Linked DNA regions of Homo sapiens: all the other regions are reported to be linked to region 1. The links are microRNA targets in miRTarBase. Many come from high-throughput screens and were not tested one by one. Region 1 holds a microRNA gene; each other region holds the end of a gene's coding sequence. Distances are from middle to middle.
The links. Region 1 holds the annotated microRNA hsa-miR-28-3p (CACUAGAUUGUGAGCUCCUGGA, at 1,469-1,490, shown strand). A microRNA usually pairs through its seed, bases 2 to 8, with sites in the 3' UTR of a target mRNA and lowers its output. Matches are read on the target gene's strand: a 7mer-m8 pairs with bases 2 to 8, a 7mer-A1 pairs with bases 2 to 7 and ends in A, and an 8mer does both.

Region 1 (3,258 bases):
AACCTCATCTTGAATTGTGATCCCCACATGTCAAGGGAGGGAGGTGATTGGATCGTGGGGGCCCTTCCCCCATGCTGTTCTCTTCATAGTGAGGGAGTTCTTATGAGATCTGAGATTTTTAAGGCAGTTTTCCTTGCTCTTGCTCGCTTCTCCCTCTGCTGCCACCTTGTGAAGAAGGTGCCTGCTTCCCCTTCTGCCATGATTTTAAGTTTCCTGAGGCCTCCTCTGCCATGCGGAACTGTGAGTCAGTTAAACCTCTTTAGAAATTACCCATTCTCAGGGAAGTTTTTTATAGCAGTGTGAAAATGGAGTAATTCAATGACCCTTTCTTACTGACTCATTGGTCTGATTTCTTGACCAAAGCTCTGAATATTCCCATGTCATCCTGTCTAACCAGCTGTCTTATACTCTTTTTTTTTTTTTTTTTGAGATGAAGTCTCGCTCTGTCGCCCAGGCTGGGGTGCAGTGGCACGATCTCGGCTCACTGCAACCTCCACCTCCCGGGTTCATGCCATTCTCCTGCCTCAGCCTCCCGAGTAGCTGGGACTACAGGCGCCCATCACCATGCCTGGCTAATTTTTTTGTATTTTTAGTAGAGACGGGGTTTCACCACGTTATCTTATTCTTAACAGTGTCTGAGGTATTTTTTTGAAACACAATTCTTACCTTAACTGCCCCAGGCACCACGGCAGAAGAACCATGACCTTGCTGAGAGGCACTGCATGCCAAATGAGACTTAGTTTTTCCAAAGTACTTGGGAGAAGAAAAACAATAATCTATATGATGGGCTTTTGGCCTAAACCCATATCCTTTAGATGACGGAATTTGGCACAGCTCATATTCTGGTTTAAAGAAAAATGTTTTGTTATGATGTCATTTGCCTAATTAATAGCAAAAGAGGATTGAATTTTCCCTATGCAATGTCATCTAGCCTTTGAGATTTTAGAGTTAATGACTCAAATCAATTGTCCTGTCTTCTGTGAAACCTTCCTGATGCCTTCAGTTGGATAAATCTACCCTTGGTGTTCATAAGGCATTATATTGATGCCTCTGATGTTATGCAGATATATCCCTTCTTGGCTTTGTTTGCCCATTCAATGAACATTTGTTGAACACCACCTATATGCCAAGATAGTTGGAAGATGGAAGTGTGGTACACAGAGGATGTGGAAGGGAATCACAGAAGATGAGACTATGAAGGCAGGCCCTTCAAGGACTTTCTAAGTAGTACTCAGGAGTTTGACAAAGAGGAGCTAGAAGAGGTTTGTGAAGTCAGATGAGTAATATAATTAGGTTTGTATTTTATGAAGGGCAACATCTAAATATGGCTTGTCTATTCAGCAAGCACTTATTAAGTGCCTTTTGCATGGTAGACAACATGCTTGATGCTGAAGATACAAGAAAAAATTTAAAATGGTCCTTGCCCTCAAGGAGCTCACAGTCTATTGAGTTACCTTTCTGACTTTCCCACTAGATTGTGAGCTCCTGGAGGGCAGGCACTTTCGTTCATCTGAAAAAGAGCTTAAATTTCAGTGTTAATCCTAGATTACAATCCCGCCTCTATTATTTTAACTTTGTTCACATCTGTTAACTGCTCTGAAAATCAGAGCTAATACTGCCTACCTCATCAGGGAAAGATTAAACGAGAAAAGAATGAGATGTGATTGACACAGCAGGAGCTCTGTGTATGCTATTTCCTCCTCTATCTCTGTGCCTGGTACATGGTAAACATTCAGGACACTTCTGCTGCCTGCTTGGCTGGAGAGCCTGTCTATGCAGCCTCAGTGTTGGGAGGATTTGAGCCTGGGGTCGGCCTGGCACCCAGCTATGGTAGTTAGCAAATCTATCCTCAGCTCAGTCAGTGATCAAATCACTGGCTCTAGGCTGTAAACTAACAGGGCCAGAATTGGGTTCTGGACTCTGAAGCCCAGGCATGCATATTGCAAAAGTCAGAATCGAAGTCATAGGAAAATGATGAAATTTCCTTTCTGGCCAGAATGCTATTATTTCACCAAGGGCAACAAATCTTCTTGGCAGGAAAAGTTGACTTGCTTGTGCTTTGTGTAATCAATTGTATTTGCAAGTGATGGAGTCCTTCTCACAGTGGCTTAGAGGAGGTGTTAACCACTATTCTACTCTCTACTTCCATGAGATCAACTTTTTTAGATTCCACACTTGAGTGAGATCATGCAATATTTATCTTTCTGTGCCTGGCTTATTTCACTCAACATAATGTCCTCCAGGTTTGTTTGACATTTCATTGTTTTCGGAGAATTTTCACAGTTCATTATCTCACTTCACAGTTCCTAATAGTCTCTCTGAGGTCCATATGGTAAGAATTAGTACCCTTTACTATATTTGTTGAATCACAAGTGAGCGGAGGAATGGGTATAGTTGAGACCCACAGAAGTGAAGTGACTTGCCCAAATCCATATAGCTTATTATGCTACCTGTTTGTTAGAGGTTTCCTGTTGTATCAGAAACTAGTGAGATAAATATTAGTAATTTTTGTCCCATTGACACATGATGGTATATCAGGAATTCTGAGCTCATTTTTTTTTTTTGGCTCAATAAGTGACCTTAGAAAATCCAGAATGGGATTTTTAAGTTGAATATCCTTCTCTGACCTGTGAAATCACTGCATCTGTTTCCCTGACTTTATCACAAGGTAACCCAAGATATTGCCAATATTTACATGTGACAAACTCTGAAAGATGTGCATAATGCTCCCAAAGGTCATCATCTTCATACCTACCTTATAAAGTGCAAATGGAATTGACCTAGTCTAGAATAAGCAGGCGAGATGCAGAGAGATTATGTGACATAGCTAGGTCATGTGACTAGTATGCAGCAGGCTTGGGGCATAAATCCTAGTCCTCTGGCTCCCGAGTCCAGTGTTCATTACGCTATGTGACATGTCAGTATTGCTGTTTGCTCGGGGTTAGGCTTTTCCTTTGGAGGTTAGAGCTTGATAACTCTAAATCGATAAACTTCTTAGTATGCCACAGTAATGCTAGCAGAAAGTATTTGTTGAAGCAAAAAATATGTTGTTTCAAGGGGTCTGCTCCCTGAAAGATAAGTTTTTTTCTTTATTTGTGGTTTTACATCTAATTTTTCTAATGTTTCAAAAAACATTCTGTGTTCCTTTAATCTACAAGTTGGAATGGATACGGTGCCCTAATTTTCGTGTTCCCTTTGAGCACAAGCAATAACACATTTTAAAGGATGATAAATAGCTGTGTAAAATGTAGATGGGTT
Region 2 (3,258 bases), 160 Mb from region 1:
AACTTTCCCTAATCCCATGCAATAGATCTGAGAGATTTTTTTTTAAGAAAGAATTTAAATAGGACACTAAAGAATCAATTCAAGTTCCACACTTTACTCTTGAGTGAACCACTCAAAAAACTATTTTACTTTTATTTGAAATACAAAGAAACCACATTTTCCCAGGCCACAGATCAAAAGGAGGGAGATTACTAGAGCAGACAAAAGCAAAGCAAATATAGAAATCTAGAGACCACACAGCATAGGGGCAAACATGCCCATATTTCCACATTGACCTTTGGTATTGGTGCATTTCCTAGAGCACAGGAAGTTAACTGTTTTTAGAGATAAATGAAAATGGAAGAGTTACTTTAAGAAGCTAGTGAAATATACAATCTATTTTATAGCTTTGATTAAAATCAGAAGTAGCCCACTTCATGTAGAAAATTCACTTATGTACATGTTGCTTTCCCCATAGAAGCCAGATTAGATTACACAGTATAAATAATATGTTCATCCTCCTTATGTCAAAGACTAAACCATTCATTGTAGCCTTCAGAATACCCATGTGTATCCATACTGAAGATTTTTTTCACCTGGTACATCTGTCTCAGTTGTGTCTTGCTTGCTTATGGGTGCCTCTGTTGATATTATTCCCTGTTAATATGTGGTAACCCACAGGTTTTTTACCCCTTAAGATACACCTTCTCCAAGTAGCCTTTCTGAATTAAGATCAGTACTTTGTTGTCACATGATTCAGCTCTTCAAGTCTGAATTTTCCCATTTATTTTGGTTTTCTAATGTTTCACATAGGCATGTTCCTGCTTTTAAGAATTCAGTTCCATTTTGGCAGCAACTCAGTAAGTCTTACAGATGTAAATTTTACTTTAGCTAATAAGGGAGCAAGAGGAAGGAATAGGTGGCTTTTTGTTATGTTTTCTTCATTCTGTCGATTTATGGATGTACTGAATTGAACCTTATAAAAAGAAATCTAAAGATTCCAAAGGAAGCTCTTTAGAGCAAGTTTCAGCTAGTATGAAAGAAGTCAACATAAAATATTCAATTTTAAATAGATTCATAAGCTACAGATGGGCCACTGTTTTTTGGTTGTTTGAATTTTACCTAGAACAGAGATATCAAGTGTAGATTTAAAAGCTTCTAGCTGGGTAAAAAATTTTTGGCTAATCTTTCCTTACTAAAGAACCTTATACATCATTTGTCTAACACTTTAAACTGTCACAGTCACTGACTTTTTAGTATACCTGTTTGATAGCTATCATCACTGTACTGTTTAAATGGAAAATAATTTTCTCCACTCAAAAGCTGGTTTAACAAATGTCTATTGTATGAATCATATTAACAACCAACAATTAGTACTAGATTTTGAGATCTATAGGCAAGGACAATATTTCACATCCACTTCAATTTCAAACAAAAATATTTATTTTAATTAAACAATTTCTTGGTATTGTTCAAAACATTAATCAAGCAATTATCTCATAAGACTTTTTTTCTTTACAAAGGAAAATTTCCAATTTTGGTTTTAAAAAAGGCAAACCAGTAAGCTACATTAGAGATCAGATATAATATACAGCCTATGCAGCCACATGAGAAATAGTTTTTGCTGCTTTGTTATTACACAGGTAGTTGCTTCCTTCAGCTAAAGCCTGGAGTATTGTATTTCTTTTATGCATATTGGGTTTGGTTCTATTACTTGGCAGGAGATTGTACTCCCCTGAGTCAGCTGTGTTCATTGGTCAGAATAAATTCCAGCATCTGACACCAATTCCATTAATCACAGACAAGCTTGAATAAGTGTAAGATAATAGAAAAAAATATCTAGTGAATGGCGAACATTGTCTATGTATGTATGCTATTCAGTAATACAGTAGAAGAGATCTGAGATATTGAGTTCAAGATATATGAAACTGTCTATCAAAAAGGATAAAAGTCCTCCTACATGAAATACTTTAATTCAGGCAAAAGGTGTATGAACCAAGTAAATCTCCACCCTGAAAGAACTTAAATTTCCATGTGAAGCCATCTTTATTTCCTTCTTTATTTCCAAATAATTGGCCACTTAGAATAAGTGTGGACATTTCATGATCGACAATATCAATACAGCCCAAACCCTGATTTCTATGATTAAAAATAATAATTTTAAATCACTTTCTCAATAAATAGAATATTACATTTCAACACAAAGTCTAACAATTTAGAAGCTGCTCTACACAATGTGCAGCTAGCTGTAGTCTCTTTGAAGAAAATGACTTTTTATCATTACACACATTTATGTTTATATTATGGCCCACAGAAGGGCAGATTAGACTGAAATCTGTGTGATGCTCCTTCTACTACTTATTGAATAGTGTGTAGGGTTACAATCATTTGTTTACACCCCAGAGTTTTTCAACTATTTCATTTTTTTTTTTTTTTTTCCCAATTAGGACTTAAGGAATGTGCTGGGACAAAGTTGGCTTCAGTGATCAGGTTGTTTCAAGTCTTAGAATTCAAACTTCAATTCTAAAAAAATTTTATCAACAAAACACTGTGACCAAAAAATCACTTTAAATCTTAAATATTGAAACGCAATAGCATATAAAGATGGTATAACCTAAGATGCTTTTATTTCATTATATTTTCAATATCTTTACGCATTATAACAACAGAAATGTAACCTACTCACATTGCCATTTGTTCCATTATGCAATTTGAAGAAACATGTTTTCCTTTTATTTTTATGAACAGATATTTAGACATTTCACATTTTGTAAAACCACGTCTACAATCTCCAATTCCATTCTTCTGAGAGGCAAAATTTTACAATTAATATAGAAGGCAGAGTTTTTTAAACACCTTAAGTTTACTTATTAATTAGTATAGTAGCATATTTCAGATTCTTAGAATATGGAGCTAGAGGGTGCTCTTTCATACTAGAAAACCAACTATGTTGGTTTTTGTACTATTGTACAGTGTGTTCAAATATAGATACTGAAGACCTCTGCAAAATTTTAATCAAAATCTCCTTTCAGTTTGTTAAATAATTTCTTGGGAGGACCACTGAAAGAGATAAGTGTCCTCATGGTGAAATCGTGAATCTCTTCCAAATTAATTCTTATAAAGGCAGTTCTGATTATGTTGATCCAAGTAATGCAGTGGTGGAAGGTTGGGTAAAGGCAAAGTTTTAGTTTTAGTTTCCCCAAATGCTGTCTCACTTGATTTAGGAGGACTTGGAAATACCCAGGAATTGTCTTCCAGAGAATTTCTGCCATAAGAACT
Region 3 (3,258 bases), not on the chromosome of region 1:
TGGACAGACGCCTTCGTGGGCCTGAGCACTTGCGGCCGGCACATGTCCGCTCACCGCGTGTCCGGGGCCCTGGCGCGGGTCCTGGAAGGTACCCTAGCGGGCCACACCCTGACAGCCGAGCTGATGGCGCACCCCGGCTACCCCAGTGTGCCTCCCACCGGCGGCTGCGGTGAAGGCCCCGACGCTTTCTCTTGCTCTTGGGAGCGGCTGCATGAGCTGCGCGTCCTCACCGCGCCCACGCTGCGGGCCCAGCTTGCCCAGGATGGCGTGCAGCTTTGCGCCCTCGACGACCTGGACTCCAAGAGGCCAGGGGAGGAGGTCCCCTGTGAGCCCACTCTGGAACCCTTCCTGGAACCCTCCCTACTCTGACCCCCTACAGACAACCAAGCACTAATCCCCTTAGTACCAAGAAAGGGGAGCCAGGATTTAGTCCTGGCCCAGCCCAGAGCTGGGACCTGGAGCACGATCTGTTGACTTCCCTGGGTAGGACACTGCCACCTCTGGGCTCAGGTCCTCATGCCTCCAAATGGCATCTAGAGTTTGAGCAGCCTTCTTGGCTGCAGGCAGGCCTAGCCTGTGGCAGCGGGCTAGGGCCCGCAGAGCATTTGGTGCCCCTCCATGTTGCAATGCAAACACCTTCACCACTGGGGCAGTGGGGAGAGATGGCTATATTAATAAAATAACGTGTGTCTTTCAAACTTGGGTGGTTTATCAGCTGTGCCCAGGAGACCCTCAGAGAAACAAGCACGGACAAAGAGCAGCTCCCTCTTGGCTCAAACCACTCCAGGAAATGGCCCATTCTCCATTCTGGTTTTGTTCATGCTGCAATTTTCTTTATTCCTTTTTAGGGTGGGAGTGGGAGATTGTCCTCACCAGGCTGCTTTGGAAGAGGCATAATACTATAATCTCAGTATTGATTTAAGAAGTCACCTGTAGGCTGAGTGTGGTGGCTCACACCTGTAATCCCAGCACTTTGGGAGGCCGAGGCGGGCAGATCACCTGAGGTCAGGAGTGCGAGACCAGTCTGACCAACATGGAGAAACCCCATCTCTACTAAAAATACAAAATTAGCTGGGCATTGGTGGTGCATGTCTGTAATCCCAGCTACTGGAGAGGCTGAGGCAGGAGAATCGCTTGAACCCGGGAGGCGGAGGTTGTGGTGAGCCGAGGTCGCGCCCCTGCACTCCAGCCTGGGTAACGAGCGAAATTCCATCTCAAAAACAAAAGTCATCTGTTTAGATGTAAGCCATTCTACGGGATAGGCGTGAGGAGACCCTGCAACCCTGTGGGAATACATTTAAATTTTTCTAGGAGGAGCAGTCTTCCCGGGAAATGGGATACCATGGTTCCTAACTTCTGGCAATGTAGGGATGCCCTGTGGACTGGGGCCGCATGTGGCTTAGCTGAAAGCTCCTGAGGTGCAGGAGCAGATGGGGAAGGCAGTGCGAGTCCTCTAGAGCACAGAGTCCTTCTGCACCACTCCGCAGGATGGAAAGGCAGATGGAATACCATGTGGTCCTTGTCTCATTTCATGAAATAGCATCTATGAGGCAGGCACCGATGTCCCCATTTTACAGGGGTAGAGGCAGGAGTGGCAGAGCAGGGCTTTGAAACTACTCATTCATTTATTTAATGTGCACTGGGCCCTAGCCTGGGCCAAACATGGAATCAGGGGCCAAGAGAGCTCTCATCCAGCCTAGGCAGCTTGGAGAGACGTGTGGCTTTCTGAAGGGTGAGTGTGGGATGTCGCTCCTCCTTCCTGCTTCTACCCACTCATGGCCCCATCCCCTTGACTGTGGCTTCAGTCCCTTTTTCTGGCTCCACACTCGTCTTCCATCTTGACCTTCACTAGACTTGGACTCTCCCATCTGCAGCACTTTTCCTGCTTTCTTGCACCCATGCTTGTGAGCTGGAATCACTGTACAGTTGCTCCTCCTGCTGCCTAGCCTCCACCTCCTCGCCTCAGCCTGCTGAGATCTGGCCACACTCCTGCAGGCTGCTGGCTAAGGCTGGGAGAGGGGTGGCCTGAAGTTAGCCGGGGATACAGACGTAGCTCCCTTGAGGGGCTTCTGTTATGGAAGTGTTCTGAGAGGAGGAGGCAGCTGGTTGTGCAGCTTTAGGCTCAGGAGAGGTGTGGGTGGGCAGGAGAGACCTGGGGGTCTGCACAGATGCTATATGAGTGGCTACTGTCACTCAGGGAGGGAAGGAGGGATGAGCAGAGTCGACAGCAGCCCTGGGGACCGTGAGACTTTTTTTTTCTTTTTAAAGACAGGATTTCATCCTGTCACCCAGGCTGGAGTACAGTGGCACAATCACGTCTCTGCAGTTCTCCACCTCCCCAGGCTCAGGTGATCATCCCACCATGGCCTCCTGAGGAGCTGGGAGCACAGGCATGCCTGGTTCATTTTTGTATTTTTTGTAGAGATGGGGTTTTGGCATGTTGCCCATGCTGGTCTCAAACTGCTGGGCTCAAGAGATCTGGTCACCTTGGCCTTTCCTAAAGTGTTGGAATTAACAGGCATCAGCCACAGCAGCCGGCTGACCATGAGCATTTGAGTGAAGTGAAGCCAGGCACAGTGGCTCACACCTATCATCCCAGCACTTTGGGAGGCTGAAGTGGGAGGATCACTTGAGCTCTGGAGTTCCAGACCAGCCTAGACAACATACTAAGACCTTATTTCTGTTATTTAAAAAAGAAAAAATAATGGCTGGGCATAGTGGCTCACGCCTGTAATTCCAGCACTTTGGGAGGCTGAGTCGGGAGGAAGGCTTGAGGCTAGCAGATTGAGACCAGACTGTGTAACATGCCAAAACCCTGTCTCTATAAAAAATACAAAAATTAGCCGGGTGTAGTGACACAAGCCTGTAGTTCCATCTACTCAGGAGGCAGAGATAGGAGGATCGACTCAGCCTGGGAGGTAGAGGCTGCAGGGAGCAGTGATCATGCCACTGCACTCTAGCCTGGGTGACAGAGTGAGCCTGACTCAAAAAAAAAAAAAAAAAAAAAAACTGAAGTGAGGGGGCATAGACTGGTAGGATAATCAGGCCCACCTGATTATAATGAGGCCCATCTCACGAGGAGGTGAAAGTGATAAGGACCTGTTGGGGTGGTGACTGGTGGGCCACAGGGGCTGTGGGGGCAGCAACAGTGTCTTAGCCAAGCGGTTCACTGTTATCCGCCCACTCGGCATTCGTGTCTGGAGGGTCCACTCTGTGCTAGGCCAGGGCTGGAGCTGACATGGCCTGGTCTGCAAGGAG

Region 2: the mRNA of AZI2 is a reported target of hsa-miR-28-3p. Seed matches in the 3' UTR shown: 7mer-A1 at 2,911-2,917, 8mer at 1,354-1,361 and 7mer-A1 at 190-196.
Region 3: miRTarBase lists YDJC as a target of hsa-miR-28-3p. The part of its 3' UTR that is shown has no 7-base or 8-base seed match.

What each region holds. Positions count from the first base shown.
Region 1 is chr3:188,687,366-188,690,623 of GRCh38, forward strand. It overlaps MIR28 (microRNA 28), which reads left to right and starts at 1,416; the gene lies at 1,416-1,501. The region is part of intron 7 of LPP (LIM domain containing preferred translocation partner in lipoma); the gene reads left to right.
Region 2 is chr3:28,320,955-28,324,212 of GRCh38, forward strand. It overlaps AZI2 (5-azacytidine induced 2), which reads right to left. Exons shown (of 8, transcript NM_022461.5): 8 at 93-3,258. The coding sequence ends at 3,088. CMC1 (C-X9-C motif containing 1) reads left to right here. Exons shown (of 4, transcript NM_182523.2): 4 at 1-3,258. Among named protein-coding and RNA genes, the nearest start is that of ZCWPW2, 26 kb to the right of the region's middle.
Region 3 is chr22:21,625,529-21,628,786 of GRCh38, reverse strand. YDJC (YdjC chitooligosaccharide deacetylase homolog) reads left to right here. Exons shown (of 5, transcript NM_001017964.2): 5 at 1-698. The coding sequence ends at 369. Among named protein-coding and RNA genes, the nearest start is that of YDJC, 2.9 kb to the left of the region's middle. RefSeq lists an enhancer at 324-931 and a silencer at 3,135-3,258.